2 separate regions of the Homo sapiens genome follow, and region 2 is linked to region 1. Evidence: fine-mapped expression QTL. Tissue or cell type: testis. Region 1 holds a variant in brackets; the other region holds the start of a gene. All regions are shown on one strand. Distances are from middle to middle.

What was found. PIP is the estimated chance that this variant, and not a neighbour inherited with it, causes the effect.
Region 2: it holds the start of TRIM35, and the variant in region 1 is fine-mapped to the expression of TRIM35 in testis (GTEx, PIP above 0.99).

What each region holds. Positions count from the first base shown.
Region 1 is chr8:27,286,850-27,295,029 of GRCh38, reverse strand. It overlaps TRIM35 (tripartite motif containing 35), which reads left to right. Exons shown (of 6, transcript NM_171982.5): 3 at 720-950; 4 at 4,852-4,874; 5 at 5,750-5,868; 6 at 6,903-8,180. The coding sequence ends at 7,480. Among named protein-coding and RNA genes, the nearest start is that of TRIM35, 20 kb to the left of the region's middle. The variant C/T (reference allele first, on the strand shown) is at 4,608.
Region 2 is chr8:27,306,180-27,314,359 of GRCh38, reverse strand. TRIM35 (tripartite motif containing 35) reads left to right here and starts at 3,088. Exons shown (of 6, transcript NM_171982.5): 1 at 3,088-3,559. The coding sequence starts at 3,125. It also overlaps a transcript of PTK2B not described here. RefSeq lists a silencer at 2,870-3,079 and enhancers at 3,230-3,379, 3,390-3,609, 4,010-4,119.

The DNA of each region.
Region 1 (8,180 bases):
CAACGTGGCAAAACCCCATCTCTACTAAAAAATACAAAAATTAGCTGGGCGTGGTGGCGTGTGCCTGTAGTCCCAGCTACTCGGGAGGCTGAGGCAGGGAAAATTGCTTGAACCCAGGAGGCAGAGGTTGCAGTGAGCCAAGATCACACCACTGCACTCCAGCCTAGGTGAAAGAGCGAGACTTAGTCTCAAAAAGAAAAAAAAAAACAAACTTTTTGTGGTTGTGATTTGGAGTGTGTATATTATTTTAATGATTGTTTTAAAATGAATGCTTCCTACTGCTCTTTTGGTAAAGCCTCTGGATCAGACAAATTTTAAGTCCTAAGATTGGAAGGTAAATACTTAAAAAAAAATCATTGCTATTCGCAGCCATTCATTTCTATGATTCAGGACTTCCCTTGTTATGGTGCAACCTAAAGAAGGAACTGAACATTGTATGTAGATGAGGTTATAGTACTACAGTTGCCATCTATATAAGCTGTGATTTTATTTTTAAAAACCCTGTCAAAACAATCTAATATTAGGTTGTTGGACTTTCCCATTTGAAATCGGAACTTAGAAATTTGTGCTTATAAACTATTATGTTGATATTTTATCTGTAGGGGTTCTATACATGATTTATTTGAACATAAATTTCCTTTGCTAAAAATGGGAAAGTTGCTGGGCTATGGATGTCCTCTCCACATCTGACCCCTGACTCCTCCTGCTGTCTTCCGTAGGTGGAGGCTGCATGGCTGGAAGGCCGGATCCGGCAGGAGTTTGATAAGCTTCGCGAGTTCTTGAGAGTGGAGGAGCAGGCCATTCTGGATGCCATGGCCGAGGAGACAAGGCAGAAGCAACTTCTGGCCGACGAGAAGATGAAGCAGCTCACAGAGGAGACGGAGGTGCTGGCACATGAGATCGAGCGGCTGCAGATGGAGATGAAGGAGGACGACGTTTCTTTTCTCATGGTAAGGAGCTCAGCGTCTGGATTCAGTGACAGGGCCACATGTTCCAGGACCAGCTGGGAGCCATAGCCCACCAGCCCTGGCCAACGTCATCTTCCTGGAGCTTCCTGGGTACTGGCCTGGAGGAGCTCACAAGTAACCTGCTCTGCTTGTGTCATGAAACTAAAAAGACTTATCAGGGCGGAGTTCCTTGAAACCCTGTTATTTCTTCCTCGCTCTTCTTTTTTTTAGAGACAGGGTCTTGCTGTATCACCCAGGCTGGAGTACAGTGGGTGATTATAGCTCAGTGTAACCTCAAACTCATGGGCTCAAGTGATCCTCTCTCCTTAGCCTCCTGAGTAGCTGGGACTACAGGCACGAGCCACCATGCCCAACTAATTTTTTTCATTTTTTACCAGTCAGGTAGGGGTGAGGGGGGTCTCACTATGTTGCCCAAGCTGGTCTTGAATCCCTGGCCTCAAGTGATGCTTCCACCTTGGCCTCCCAGGTAGTTGGACTACTGGCGCACCACTGTGCCCAGCTCCTGTCTCTTCTTTCTTCCTTTCTCTTGCCCTCTCTCTTACTCTCATTTTTTTTCCGGTCTCTACCTTTTAATAAGATGAATTCTTTTAAAATCATTCAATTATTTAAATTTTTTATTTAAATATAATGCCTTGGCTTTCTGTCTTCTTAAGAAAAGGATGATTCCATTCTCTCTTTAAAAAAACAGTATTATTCATTTTTTTTTCCTTTTATTGATTTATTTCCTCCCCATGAGCCAGTGGTCCTTACAAATTTCCTACAGGGAAATTTCTGGGCTCGAAAGCTGGTCTGTAAACTGGCCAGGGTGGTGAGGTGTCTCTTGTACCTGGAAAACAGCTGACTGCTGTGGAAGGGGTGTCGCTGTAGAGTGGAGTGGGAGGCGACAGGGACAGTTATCTGTTCAGGCAGTGTCATCTCCTGGGTGGGTCCTTTAGGAGTTCTCCACCTCACTCAAAGCCTGGAACCATGAAGTCTCCTGTCTCAAAAATGTCCCTGATTATGAAATCATTCTGTGTTCAGAGCTGTCTCTAAAAAGAAAAATGAAGAAAAAAAAAAAAGAAAAAGAAAAATCATTTTGTGGGATCTAAAAGCTGTGTGTCTCGAGGATTCTGTTTAGGGAATTGGGAGTATTGTCTGCCCAGTACTCAGAGTGCTTTCAGGGATGATTTTGGTTTGTGACTCTTTTTTATTTTTTATTAACAACTTTATTGAGATATAATTTACATGCTAAACAATTCACCCATTTAAAATGTACCACTCAGTGATTTTTAGTATATACAGAGTTGTGCAACCATCACGACAATTTTAGAACATTTCATGCCTCCAAAAGCAGCCCTGCTTTAGCTGTCACTCCCCAGTTCCTCCTCCCACATAAAAACTGCTACCGAAATTGAGTCTAACAGAGTGGTAATTACTAGAATTAGCAGCCCCTGGCAACCACTAGTCTACATACTATCTATATGGATTTACCTGTTGTAGACATTTCAAATGCATGGAATTATATAACATGTAACCTTTTGTGACTGCCTTCTTTCAGTCAGCATATTTTGAAACATCATTCATGTTGTAGCATCTATCAGTACTTCATTCTTTTTTATGGCTGAATAATATTCCATGGCATAGATATATAATCATGCACTTCTTAGTGATGGGGATATGTTCTGAGAAATGTATTATTAGGCAGTTTCTTCATTATGCAAGTGTCATGGAGTGTGCTTACAGAAGCCTACATGGTGTAGCCTACTGCACACCTAGATTATATGGAATAGCCTTTTGCTCCTAGGCTACAAACCTGTACAGCACGTTGCTGCACTGAATACTGTAGGCAACTGGAGCCCACTGTTAAGTATTTGTATATCTAAACATAGAAAAAGTACAGTAAAAAACAGTGATATAATCTCATGGGACCATACCATAGTCATATATGTGGTTCCTTGTTGACTGAAACATCGTTACGTTGCACATGGCTATATTATATTTTATTGATTGATTTATCAATTGGTGGTTGCTGTGGTTTAAATATGTTCCCCAAAATTTATGTGTTACAAACTTAATCCCCAATGCAACAGTGTTGGGTGGTGGAGCCTAATAAGAAGTGATTGGGTCATGAGAGCCCTCATGAATGGGTTAATGTTGTTACTGGCAGAGTGGGTTAGTTATTGAGAGAGTGGGCTTGTTATAAAAGTGAGTTTGGGCCCCTCTTGCTCTCTTGCTCTTGGTCTTATGTGTAGTCTCTTGCCCTTCTTCCTTCTGCCATGGGATGACACAGCATGAGGGCTCTCATCAGATGCTGGTGCCATGCTCTTGGACTTTCCAGCTTCAGAACCACGAGTGAAATAAACTATTGTTTATAAATTACCCAGTCTGTGGTATTTTGTTACAGCAACACAAAATGAACTAAGACAGTGGTCATTTGGGTTGTTTCTATTTTGGCTATTATGAATAATATGACTATAAACATTCAGGTAGCAATTTTTATGTGGACATGTTTTCATTTTTCTTGGAAATATGTCTGGGAGTAGATTTGCTGGATCAAATGGTAACTCTAGGTTTAACTATTGGAAGAACTGCTAGGCCATTATTCAGAGCAACTGTATCATTTTATATTCCCATCAGGAGTGTATGTGGATTCCAGTTTCTCCATATTTTTGCCAAAATTTGTTTTTTAAAAATTATAACCATCCTTGTAGGTGTGAAGTGGTATCTCCTTGTGTATTGCATGTCATCACATCCCTGATGGCTAATGACTTGGAACATCTTTTCATGGGCTTTTTGATCATTAGTAGATCTTCCTTGGACAAATGTCTATTCACATCCTTTGCCCATTTTTAATGTGGGTTGTCTTTTTATTGTTGAGTTGTAAGAGTTCTTTATATAGTCTAGATACAAGTTTTTTATCGGTTTTAGCTCTTCATGTAGGTCTTTGATGCATTTTGAGTTTTTTTTTTGTATATGGTATAGTAAGGGTTAGTCCAACTTCACTTTTTTTTTTTTTTTTTTTTTGCATGTCAACATACAGTTTTCCCAGTACCATTTGTTGGAAAGACTATTCCTCCATTAAATCATCTTGGCACTATTGTAAATAATTGATTGATGGTAAATATGAGGGTTTATTTCTGGACTTTCAATTCTATTCCATTGATCTCAGTGCCTGTTTTTATATTAGTACCATACTATCTTGATTACTGTTGATTTGTAGTAAGTCTTGAAATTGGAGATTATGAGTCTTCCAATGTTCTTCTTTTTCAAGATGGTTTTGGCTATTCTGGGTTCCTTGAAATTTTGTGTGAATTTTAGGATCAGTTTTTTAGTTTCTGCAAAGAAGCCAGCTAGGATAAGGGATTGCACTGAATCAGTAGATCAACTTAAGGAGTCTCTTCTTATGTTTTCTGTTGCTATGACAGAATATCACAGACTGGGTAAATTATAAAACAATACAAGTTTATTCAGCTCAGTGTTCTGGGTGAGGCCAGGAAGTCCAGGAGCATGATGGCTCTGGCATTTGGTGTGGGTCATCTCATGGCAGAAGGAGGAAATGAGTGCAAGACAGAGTAGTTGCTCATTGCTTTATAGCAACCCAGTCTCATGACAACTAAACCACTTCACAATAACGGTATTAATCCATTTGTGAGGGCTCTG[C/T]CCTCATGACCCAATCACCTCTTTTTAGGCCTTTCCTCCCAACACTGTCGCATTGGGGATTCAGTGTTCAACACATGAACTTTTGGATAATATGTTCAAATCATAGCAGGGATGTTATTGTTAACATCTTGACAATATTAAGACTTATGATCCATGGAATGCATGACTTCTTTTGAGGTCAGAAACATATACATTTCCTCTACATCTGTGTCTCTGTGTTATTTTTTTATTTTTATTTTTTCAGAAACACAAGAGCCGAAAACGCCGGTAAGTTGCCAAAGCTGGTGGAGGGGAGGGGAAGAGTGGGCAGAAATACCAGGGGTGCAAACTCCAGTGGCCCCGGGGCAAGCAGGTAACAACCAGCTGGGTGCACCAGCACACATGAGCTACTGGCCCTGGTTTTAGAGGGAGAGGTGGACAATGGCCAGGTGGAGAGAGCCCTCTCACAGCATCCAGTTCAAGTTGGCTCTGGGGCAGTGTTGTTCTCCTGAGTGTGGAGGGTCCCCACCTGCCGTGCAGGGAAGGAGAACACTATCCTGCATGTGGCTTGCATTTCTCGGGGCCAGTCAATGTCAGGCTTGTTTCTTGATCAGCCCCCTCCCTCTGAGAGCCTTAGGCCATGGTGGTTTGTGTTGATGGTTGTTGGGTTCACAGGGATGAATGAGGAAGAGCTGTGTCCCAGTCAGAGCTGTGCAAAGATGGAATAGAGTGCTTTTGGAGGGAGTGAGTTCCCTGTGCTCACTTCCCACTGGCAGTGTGCAAGCAAAGGCTGGAGGACACCTTGGGATTGTTGGACTAGAGCATCCTTAGGGTCCCTTCCAACTCAGACATCCCATGAGCCGGATGTGTAAGTGTGATTTCTGCCTGCAAGGATGGCAGCCATGTTGGAGAACCTCCTGTTTGTATTTCTCCTAGTTGGGGCAGGGTGAGCCCTCGGATTGAATGCTGAAGGGAGATGGCAGCCCTGTTGGCCTTGGCCCATCTCCCATCGTAGCCCAGTCCAGTCTTGTCTTGGAGAAGGTGGCCAGGAAACTTGGGCCTGAGGGAAGGGAACAAGTCCTGTTGCTGGTTTCCAGTTGGCCCAGTTCGGCCCAGGTTGCATGGCTCTGGCCCTGCCCACCATACCCATTGTACTTTTCCAGACTCTTCTGCACCATGGAGCCAGAGCCAGTCCAGCCCGGCATGCTTATCGATGTCTGCAAGTACCTGGGCTCCCTGCAGTACCGCGTCTGGAAGAAGATGCTTGCATCTGTGGAATCTGGTGAGCGGGGGTGCCGGCAGGTGTCCCAAGCATGGGTGGAAGCCCTTCATGTTAGCAAAGAGGCACCAGGGCTGGTCTCTGCCGGGCCCACCTCCCACCTCCTCAGAGCTCCCCTCCTCTCTCAGCTGATCCCTCTGCCAGTCCCTCGCAGGCAGGTTCCTGTACCCTGGTCTTTTCCACTCTGCCCAACACCTCCAACCCTCCTGGTAGAATGCCTTCTCTCAGGGTCCTGACACTTGGTCCCTTCTTCAGAGAGGGAAACTGGCTTTCTTGCCTATTCAGAACTGTGTTTTGTATGATAAAAGACCTCCTGCATCTGGGCTTGCCTCTCCTAAGGCGACTGCAGCCCACATGAGCCACAGTGTCCTGGTTTTACGGGGAGGAATATCACTGACTCAGGGAATGGGCCGTGCTGTCCTAACATCCCTTGGTCGTGTGAGTGTTAAGAGTCTCTGCCTGTATGAGTTCCTGTGGCTGCCATAACGAAGGACCACAAACTAGAAAATGACAGAAGTTGACTCTCTCACAGTTCTGGAGGGTAGAAATCCAAAATCCAGATGTTGGAAGGACCAGGCCCCCTCTGAAACCTGTAGAGGAGAGTCTTCATTTCCTCTTCCGTCTCCTGGTGTCTCCTGGCCATTCTTGGCCTTATTGGCTCCCCCTCAGCACTTTGATCCTCACCTCCGCCATCACACAGCATTCTCCCCTGTGTATCTGTGTCTGTCTCCTCTTTATTTTAAGGACACAGGTCATATTGGATTGGGGACCCTCCTCCAGTCTTCATCTTAACTAATATGTGTACAACCACCCCATTCCCAAATAAGGTCACACTCGGAGGTACCAGGGGTTGGGACTGCCGCATATCTTCTGGGGGATACAGCCCAACCCCTGCCACCACTCCAGCCCTGGGCCACTCCTTGCATGGACTTGGGGCCAGGTGTGACACAGTGGTTGGTTTGTGGGGCTGGAGATATCCACGTGTGGCCTAAGGGACCTCAGGTTTGCTGATTCCCCATTTCCGCCTCTGCTTGCAGTACCCTTCAGCTTTGACCCCAACACCGCAGCTGGCTGGCTCTCCGTGTCTGACGACCTCACCAGCGTCACCAACCATGGCTACCGCGTGCAGGTGGAGAACCCGGAACGCTTCTCCTCGGCGCCCTGCCTGCTGGGCTCCCGTGTCTTCTCACAGGGCTCGCACGCCTGGGAGGTGGCCCTTGGGGGGCTGCAGAGCTGGAGGGTGGGCGTGGTACGTGTGCGCCAGGACTCGGGCGCTGAGGGCCACTCACACAGCTGCTACCACGACACACGCTCGGGCTTCTGGTATGTCTGCCGCACGCAGGGCGTGGAGGGGGACCACTGCGTGACCTCGGACCCAGCCACGTCGCCCCTGGTCCTGGCCATCCCACGCCGCCTGCGTGTGGAGCTGGAGTGTGAGGAGGGCGAGCTGTCTTTCTATGACGCGGAGCGCCACTGCCACCTGTACACCTTCCACGCCCGCTTTGGGGAGGTTCGCCCCTACTTCTACCTGGGGGGTGCACGGGGCGCCGGGCCTCCAGAGCCTTTGCGCATCTGCCCCTTGCACATCAGTGTCAAGGAAGAACTGGATGGCTGAGCTGGCCCGGGGCTGCCCCGGTCTTGTGCCACAGCACTGTTTTCTTTCTGCCCTCTTCCTAATGCCCACACTGCTTGGGCACTATTGCGCCCCTGCCTCCTTGCCAGGCTCTTCCTCCTGTCCTGCCTGGTCCTTTTCCATGACTCCAGGCTGTGCCTCTCTCCATGTTTGGTCCCTTCTGTGCCCATGGTCAGGAGCTATTCGGGTGGCACCTCGCTGGCCAGGCTCTCCCGAGTCGTGGCACCTCCACAATGTGAATTTTCTGAATCCCTATTCCAGGATTTCTGGGAATAATGTTTACTTCTAGAATGGGCCTGTTGTAAACCATCTCATCGAGGTGTGGTAAAGCCATTGGATGAGGAGGGGACTGCCATGGAAAGGAGAGTTTGTTACTTACGGTTCTGAGAGGAGGGGCCACATAGGAAAGCCCCACGGTGGGTCAGAAGGCGGAAGGAGGGAGGGGAACGTGTGGGCAAGAGACTTCCTCTGGTTTCCTCAGGAGGAAATGGGCAAGGCAGAGTAAGCAGGGGAGACAGGTTTAAGGGTAGCTGGCTTGAGTAATTTCAGTGGCTCTCAGGATAGGGGCTGCCCTTTTTGTCTGATACCTGGCCCCGGGATAGTCAGGACAGGTGAATGTTGGCCTGGGGTGTGACAGCCCTGGGAGAGCCATGTGAAGGAGGCAGCTGGCGCCATCGCTCCG
Region 2 (8,180 bases), 19 kb before region 1:
CTTCGACCTCCCAAAGTGCTGGGGTTACAGGTGTGAGCCACCACTGGCACCTGGCCCGATCCGCCATGCCTGGCCTGATCATAGTTTTATGTGACATGGGAGCCTTCAGAATGAAGACCTAAAGATAGACTGGAAATGGCTCATTTTCATGCTTAGGTTCAGCAAAGTATGAGTAGCTGTGTAGAAATATGATTGAACAAAAGGGTATGAGCTAATGTTAATAAACTGAGTGGGGAACCTAGGCCTGTCTGTCTAGATTTTTCTTGGCCTCTACGAACATGCATTTCTTCCTTCCAGGTATGTTACAGGTAGTTAGACAGGCATGAGCAGGGCAGGAGAGGACTCTACCCTCCCCAATCCCCTCAAGCAAGAATGCCAGGTGATGGTTTCACAGTTATCACACTGCCTTTCTAAAATGGATAATTTGGCAGATGGGCCAGAGAGAGGGAGAGAGACAATTCCCTGATGGTCCACAGCTGTCACTAAAGTGTTACTTGATGTTAATTGATATTAAAGCAGGTGCCAGGCATAGGCAATTTCCCAAACAGATAAAAACACTTGAGATTGGTAATCAGCTTCCAATAAAATTTCAGAAATTGGGTGAGTGAGCTTGGGCATGCACATTAAGAGACAAAATAGTGGAGTATGACCTTCCGGGGGCATTCCACTGGAAAAGGGAAGAAAGCCTCAGATGGGCATGTGTACAAATTCCTAAGCACATGGTGCATGCTCACCTCCCAAGCATAGGGAGGGCACTGTGCATTCGGGCAGCTCACACTGAGGGAAGAATGAAGGGAGAGGGCAGCAAGACTCCAGAAGTGGGCCAGCATATGAAGTCCCAGGATCAGGGTTAAATGCCACACTTGTCCCTCAAGTTGCCCGCTTGGGTCTCTTCCAAGTGTACTTTCTTTTCTGTCCCAAACTTTTTAATAAACTTCCACTCTTGCTCTGAAACTTGCCTCAGTTGCTTTTTCTGCCTTATGCCCTGTATTAGTCCATTTTCACATTGCTATAAAGAACTGCCTTAGACTGACTGGGTAATTTATAAAGGAAAGAGGTTTAATTGACTCACAGTTCCGCATGGCTGGCGAGGCCTCAGAAAACTTACAATCACAGTGGAAGGTGAAGGTGAAGCAAGACACCTCCTTTGCAAGGCTGCAGGAAGGAGAATGAACACAGGAGGAATTACCAAACACTTATAAAACCATCAGATCTCGTGAGAACTCACTCACTATCAGGAGAACAGCATGGGGGGAAAACCACCCCTGTGATTCAATTACCTCCACCTGGTCTCTCCCTTGACACGTGGGAATTATGGGGATTACAATTCAAGATGAGATTTGGGGTGGGGACACAGCCAAACCATATCATGCCCCTCAGTCTAATTCTTTCTTCCAAGGAGGCAAGAATTGAGGTTGCTGCAGACCCATACAGATTCACTGCTGTTAACTCAGACACCTTCTACCCCTAACAGGTATGGGGTAGGACCCTCTCTGGAATCGGGCTCTTATGGCCTACAGTCAAACAAGGTAGGTCAGATAATTTCTTTATGGCCAGTTATTCCACAGAAAGGCAGAGAGAAAGAGTAATATTTTAAGGTTTCAAGACTGGCTTTAGGAAAAAGGGGTTCTGGTTTCTATGACCTGCCTTGGGGAAAAGGAATTCTAATTTCTATGGCTATCCTTGGGGGACTGAGAGATAGGAGGGCAGAGAAAAATTTCTGCTTTTGAGGCCATTTTGGGGTATTGTTTTCTGAGTTTCAACACTAACAAGTTTGCATGCCAAAATTTCATGAATACTGCTAAAAGATGAAACTCCTGGGTCAGAGACAAAGGATAATACTAACAGCAATAATAGTAGTCACAGTATTGTCATTGGGCCAGTTTCTGAGCCCTAATTCTTGCAAGACTATGTGATGAAGGCTACAGTAGGTTGCATTACAGGAGAGGGGCCCCAAGTTTAGGAAACTCACATCTCTTATAATTGGGAATAAGTCTGCCAGATCTTTGGAGAGACAAGAATTCTGTCTTCCAGGGCTATTCAATGCAGAAACATCCTTGAAAAGATAGTTGGAAAAAGGCAGTCAGTGCCTCTGCTCTCTCAAGACATGCAGGAACATGACACATGTGAATTGTCTCCCAATAGAAAAGGAATGAAAGTGCATCGTGTGAAAAGTATTCTGCATCTGGAGGCTGTAAAGTGATCAAACTGAAGCAGGAATGAAGATCTGAAGGAACCATCCAGGCCTACTGTACCTGGCAAGAATTGAGCATGAACTCTAGTTATCTCAGCTAAACTTTGCAGAAGTCCTCAATTTCACTGTTTTAATGGGCACTTGCCCATTAAAACAGTGGTTGTCATGAGCACTTTCCACATTTATTTCACTTTATCCTCACACTTCATGGAAACAGAGCTATTACAGCCATTGTACTCATGAGTAAATGGACTTTGAAACATGATGACCTGTTCACTTTTTCAACCACAGGACAAGAATCAGGTTTTCTCGGAGCTCTTCTGCCGCCACCCCTCTCTTGTTTCTCCTTACCGCGGCGGGCCAGAAGAAGACTGGCCAAAATAAGTAAACGACTAATGCAAGAGTGGCATAGGTCCTCAAAAAGGCGCTGCAAACTTAAGTGGTGATTGCACTCACGGTGCTTTAAGACCCAGCCACTACTTCGGAAGCAGGAAGTTGGCATCTCTGGTTTCTCCCATCCGCGGGCCTGAGGTTCCCGGGGATTGGTTAAGGTAGAGGCTCCTTTTCCCATTTGCAGCCGGAAGTAGGTTTCCAGTAACACGGAAGCCCTACTACGCCGCCTGGGAGACCCTTCCGTGCTACCCCGGCCAGGGACCCGCCCGGACCTGAGGAGGCGGGAACTGCGGGCAGAAGGCCCACCCCGCTCTCCCAAGATTTCCCGCGCACACCGGAAGTGGGTGGGGCTCCTCCGAGCGCCCCCTCCCTCCCCCTCGCCATCCCCCCCGCACGATTGGCCAGCGCCGCTGTCTCTCAGCGTTCCAGGGGAAGGGACTGGGCGATTCCCAGCACTCGGGTCGCGGGCGTTGGCAGCCGGGCGGGTGGGAGGGGCCGGAGCAAAAGTTCCGGGCGCCCGAGCCGGCTGCTCGTGCCATGGAGCGGAGTCCCGACGTGTCCCCCGGGCCTTCCCGCTCCTTCAAGGAGGAGTTGCTCTGCGCCGTCTGCTACGACCCCTTCCGCGACGCAGTCACTCTGCGCTGCGGCCACAACTTCTGCCGCGGGTGCGTGAGCCGCTGCTGGGAGGTGCAGGTGTCGCCCACCTGCCCAGTGTGCAAAGACCGCGCGTCACCCGCCGACCTGCGCACCAACCACACCCTCAACAACCTGGTGGAGAAGCTGCTGCGCGAGGAGGCCGAGGGCGCGCGCTGGACCAGCTACCGCTTCTCGCGTGTCTGCCGCCTGCACCGCGGACAGCTCAGCCTCTTCTGCCTCGAGGACAAGGAGCTGCTGTGCTGCTCCTGCCAGGCCGACCCCCGACACCAGGGGCACCGCGTGCAGCCGGTGAAGGACACTGCCCACGACTTTCGGGTAAGAGCAGCGATTTGCACGAGGCGGCCGAGCCGGGTCTGGAACCCGGAATCCCTTGGCTCTGCGGCTCCCGCCCCTCCTGCCTGCCAGAGCCCAGTGTGCCCGCGTCTCGCTCCCAGCATGCAGGACCCCACCTCTCCGACCCAGGTTCTCAGGGCTGGCTGCTTCTTCAAGGTCGGCCCAGGGGCCCGTGCTGGGAGAAGAGAATGCGAACGGAAAGTGACAGATGAGGTTACATGATGTTCCCAAGACAGCGACACTTGCTTCTGAAGGGCCCAGGCCATGCACCCCTTGTGCCAGCCGGGTGTGGCCCAGGTCCCTTTAAGCGGCACGGATGTGGGTGCAGCCCACGAGCCCTGTAGCTTGGCACACTCAATTTAGAAGTGGAGGAGGAGCCACAGACCTGGCCAGGGGTGTGGAGTCTTAAGATTTCCCCCAAACCAGTCACCTACTTGCCAAGCTGATCCCGCGGTTTGTATTATCTGAGTGAGAGGTCTCTGACCCTGGCTGGCTGGCCTATTCTGGTTTATAAAGCAGCATCTCCATATCTAGAGTTCTAGTGACTATACATAAACCCAGGAGCAACTTACAGGGCAAAACTAACATGGAGAATTCTTTGATATAGGAAGGAAAAATGAATAGAAGATAAGGGTTAGCCTAACTCAGCATTTTCCAAAACGTTTAATCTTAGCCCATAGGAAGCAATGCATTTTCCCTTGTGACCCAGAACATATGTATCAGTTGAAACAAAAGTTTTCTGAACATGTCCATGGCACTCTGATATTTTCTGTTACTTCCCTTTGTTTTTTTTTTTTTTTGAGACCTCTATCGCCCAGGTTAGAGTGCAGTGGCGTGCTCTTAGCTCACTGCAACCTCCGCCTCCTGGGTTCAAGCGATTCTGGTGCCTCAGCCTCCCGAGTAGCTGAGATTACAGGCATGTACCAACACGCCTGGCTAATTTTTTTTTTTTTTTAATTTCTAGTAGAGGCAGGGTTTCACCATGTTGGCCAGGCTGGTCTGGAACTCCTGGCCTCAAGTGATCTGCCCTCCTCTGCCTCCCAAACTACTGGGATTACAGGCGTGAGCCACTCCGCCTGGCCTCTGTTACTTTTAAAAATTACCCAGAATGTGAAACATTGAATTTATTTCATCACCTGCTAATGCATGAGTCAGAGCCCCAATTGGGAGAACACTGGGTAGCTGGCCCGAAGCTGCATGGACTGGAGAGGAGGAGCTGCCCGAGTCCCCTGTGCCTGGTTTCTGGCCCCCTCTGTGGCCCTGCCTTCTTTTTTTGCAATACCTTTTTAAATACGGAAGTCTGTTCCGCTCCAAATGCATTTGACAAAGTTTAATTGAAGGGGAATGTAAGGATGCTGTCAGTACGCATGTCTCAATGAGTAACCCTGTTACTCCTGTCATCTTTTTTGTTTAACATGGGTCCATGTCAATGCTTTTCCTGTTTCCACTGGCAGAAGTGACAGATCCTGATTTGGGACAGCTGGAATAAGTGCTGGCCAGCCAGGGGTCTGGGGCCCAGGTAAAGGAGGGATCATGGTTCAGGTCATGACTGATGCCTATTTGGCTGGCCGAGGTGCTGATCAGGAGATGCTGGGGTCAGGGCTGAGAACACCCAGGCAGAGCCCCCAGGCTGGGGCCAAGCCAGGATTCAAGAGCAGAGAGCCATGCACCAGCAGATGCCTGGTACTGCAAGGTCCCAGGGATACTGCAGGAGACAAGATAGACCATTTCCAGCCTCAAGGAGCTTCCAGCAGAGACCCGAGGGAAGAGGAGGTGTTAGCCAGGTGAAAGAGGGTATTTCAGATAGAGGCAGCAGCATTTGGAAGGGTCCAGAAGTGGGAAAGCCTGACTTTCTAGGCACTGAGGGAATTTAAGGGTAGTTAGAATGAGGAGGGACGTGCAGGAGGATCCAGGAGGCCGGTGGCTCACCCTTGCTGTGAACAGCAGCTGGGGGTTTTAGCAGAAGAATGATGGTGTCAAGTCAGTGGACACTCAGGATGATGTCAGGGGCTGAGTAGTCTAGTCCCAAATGGATCTGAGAAGAATGAGAGCCAGGTGTGGTCAGCCTGATGCAGGGTGCAAATCACTCATTTACTAGACAAATGGGTACTGATGGCTGTTGTGTGCTGTGGCCTCTTCTTAGCTTCATGGAATTCTCATTTGAGCAGGGGGCATAGACAGTCAATAGACAAGATGTAGTTCTGTGTGATTCAAGGTAGGTGGTTGTGGGGGAGCGGTATGGGAAGATTCCCTCCACCACTTGGTAAGAAGGGACTGGGTAAGAAGCTGTGTGCCTCACTGAGGGGGTTTTCCGTTTTGTGCTGTGGGGAGCTCTGAAAGATTCTAAACAGGGGAGTTTGTGATGGGATGTGTGTTTTAGAGAAAGATTACTTTGCCAACTATCTATGTGAGGAACAGCAAAGTCAAAATCATCCCAGCTAACACATTTCAGTGCTCACTGTGTGCTAGATGCTTTTCAGTGTTCACACGTCAACAAATTTAATGCTCACAAAAACGTATTTTCAGGTCCTGTGTTTCCTGTTACTGCGTAATAAATGTGGTGGTTTAAAATAGCACAAGTTTGTTCTCTTATGGTTCTGGAGGTTGGAAGTCCTAAAATCGAGGTGTCTGCAGGGCTACATTCCTTTTGGAGGCTCCAGGGAGAATTTATTTCCTTGCCTTCTCCAGCTTGCAGAGGCCCCTTCTTCCAGCTCTGAAGTGTGTCATTCCGTTCTGCATCTGTTGTCACTTTGACTTCTTTGACCAGTTCTACTACCTCCCTCTCATAAGGACCCTGTGATGACATTGGGCCCACCCAGGTAATCCAGGATAACCTCCCCACAGCAAGATCCTTAATTTAATCATCTGCACAGTCCCTTTTGCCATACAAGATTCTGGGGATTAGAATGGGGACATCTTTTCGGGGAAATAATTATTCAGCTTGCTACAGTTAGGTGCTATTATCCCCATTTTATAGACAATTATAGAATCATAGAGAGGGTAAGAAACTTGTCCAAAGTCACAGAGCAAGTAGCTCTAAAGATCACCTGGAGCCTTGTTCAGTTCACACACTGGTCCTGGACTTTGAGAGAGGTTTCTCTCATCTCAGACTTCAGCGGGCAGCTGACTGTGTGTTAGGGGTTGGAGTGGCTGTTGACCATTGTCAGGGCTGGCAGAAGGTACTGGTTGTGTGCCAGTACTGTGTCCAGGACAGGACCGGACAGTCCTAGACCTTGCCTTTGTGGGCATGGTTGTATCATCTCACTAATAATTACATAGTTTCAGCTCAACATTCCTGTGAAGGACAGTACAGGATGTGGTGGGAGATTGTAAGGGGGAGGCTGCTCTTGTTTGGTGGGGTGTGGGAAGGAGTCTCCAAGGAAGTGATTTCGCTGAGAGGAGCTGATTGAGGGGCGGCGAGCAGTGTGTGTGTGTGGCGGGGGTGTGGCGGCGGGGCACAGCGTGGGGGTGTGCAGTGACTGAGAGATGGTTCACGTGGGGATGAGGAACTGCAGGACAGATCCCACAGGACACAGAGGGCCCTGCTTAGGAGCTGGGATTTTTATCGTAGGTGCAGTGGCGCATGATGGAAGGACTGATGAGATTTGGGAGCCTGGCATCATGTTTACAGCAGAGCTGTAGCAAGGAACAGTGCTTGGAAGGACCTTCAGAAATCCTAGTCTGGCGTTTCTCAAACTTGAACAAGTATGCATTCTTCTTAAAGGAAAAAATAGTCTAGCCAGTGAGAGTTAAATTATGTTATTATTTACATGCATACAAATGCAAACCTGGTATAAATAGCACTTGCTCATGCTACATATAAGCAATAAAACAAAAGGAAGTGAACAGACTGAATACAAAACTATAATCAATAACATTCCACTTAAAATATTAATTCTAAAGTTTTATTTTGCTGGAACAAAATCTCTACTCCTGGCCAAGATACTTCTGATTCTCCCATTACTCTGTTCCAAGTGACTACTTAATCCGCCCAAATTTCTCTGAAGAGCTCTGGAGCTTTCTTGTTACGGGATTGGCCTTCATTTGGGTCCGGCACATTCTTTACCTGCTATGTGTATTTCTCTTCTTTCCTTATCAGGACAAGACGATGAAAGTCATGTCTTGATATCAAGTAAGCTGTTAAGAAAATATGAATGGTGGCCGGGTGTGGTGGCTCATGCCTGTAATCCCAGCACTTTGGGAGGCCGAGGCAGGCAGATCACGAGGTCAGGAGTTCGAGACCAGCCTGGCCAGTATGGTGAAACCCCATCTCTACTAAAAATGCAAAAATTAACCAGGCATGGTGGCAGGTACCTGTAGTCCCAGCTACTTGGGAGGCTGAGGCAGGAGAATCGCTTAAACCCGGGAGATGGAGGTTGCAGTGAGCCGAGATCGTGCCACTGCCCTCCAGCCTGTACGACAGAGCAAGACACTGTCTCAAAAAAAAAAAAAAGAAAGAAAAAAAGAAAATACGAATGCTGATGATGAAGTTGTGAACTGAAAGCATGTGTCAGCGCTGTTTATGTCGTGGCTTGGAGTAGGATTGTCTTAGGTTTGGTTTAGGTTGCCATTAAATGAAAACATCCTCAGACACAGACCGTGC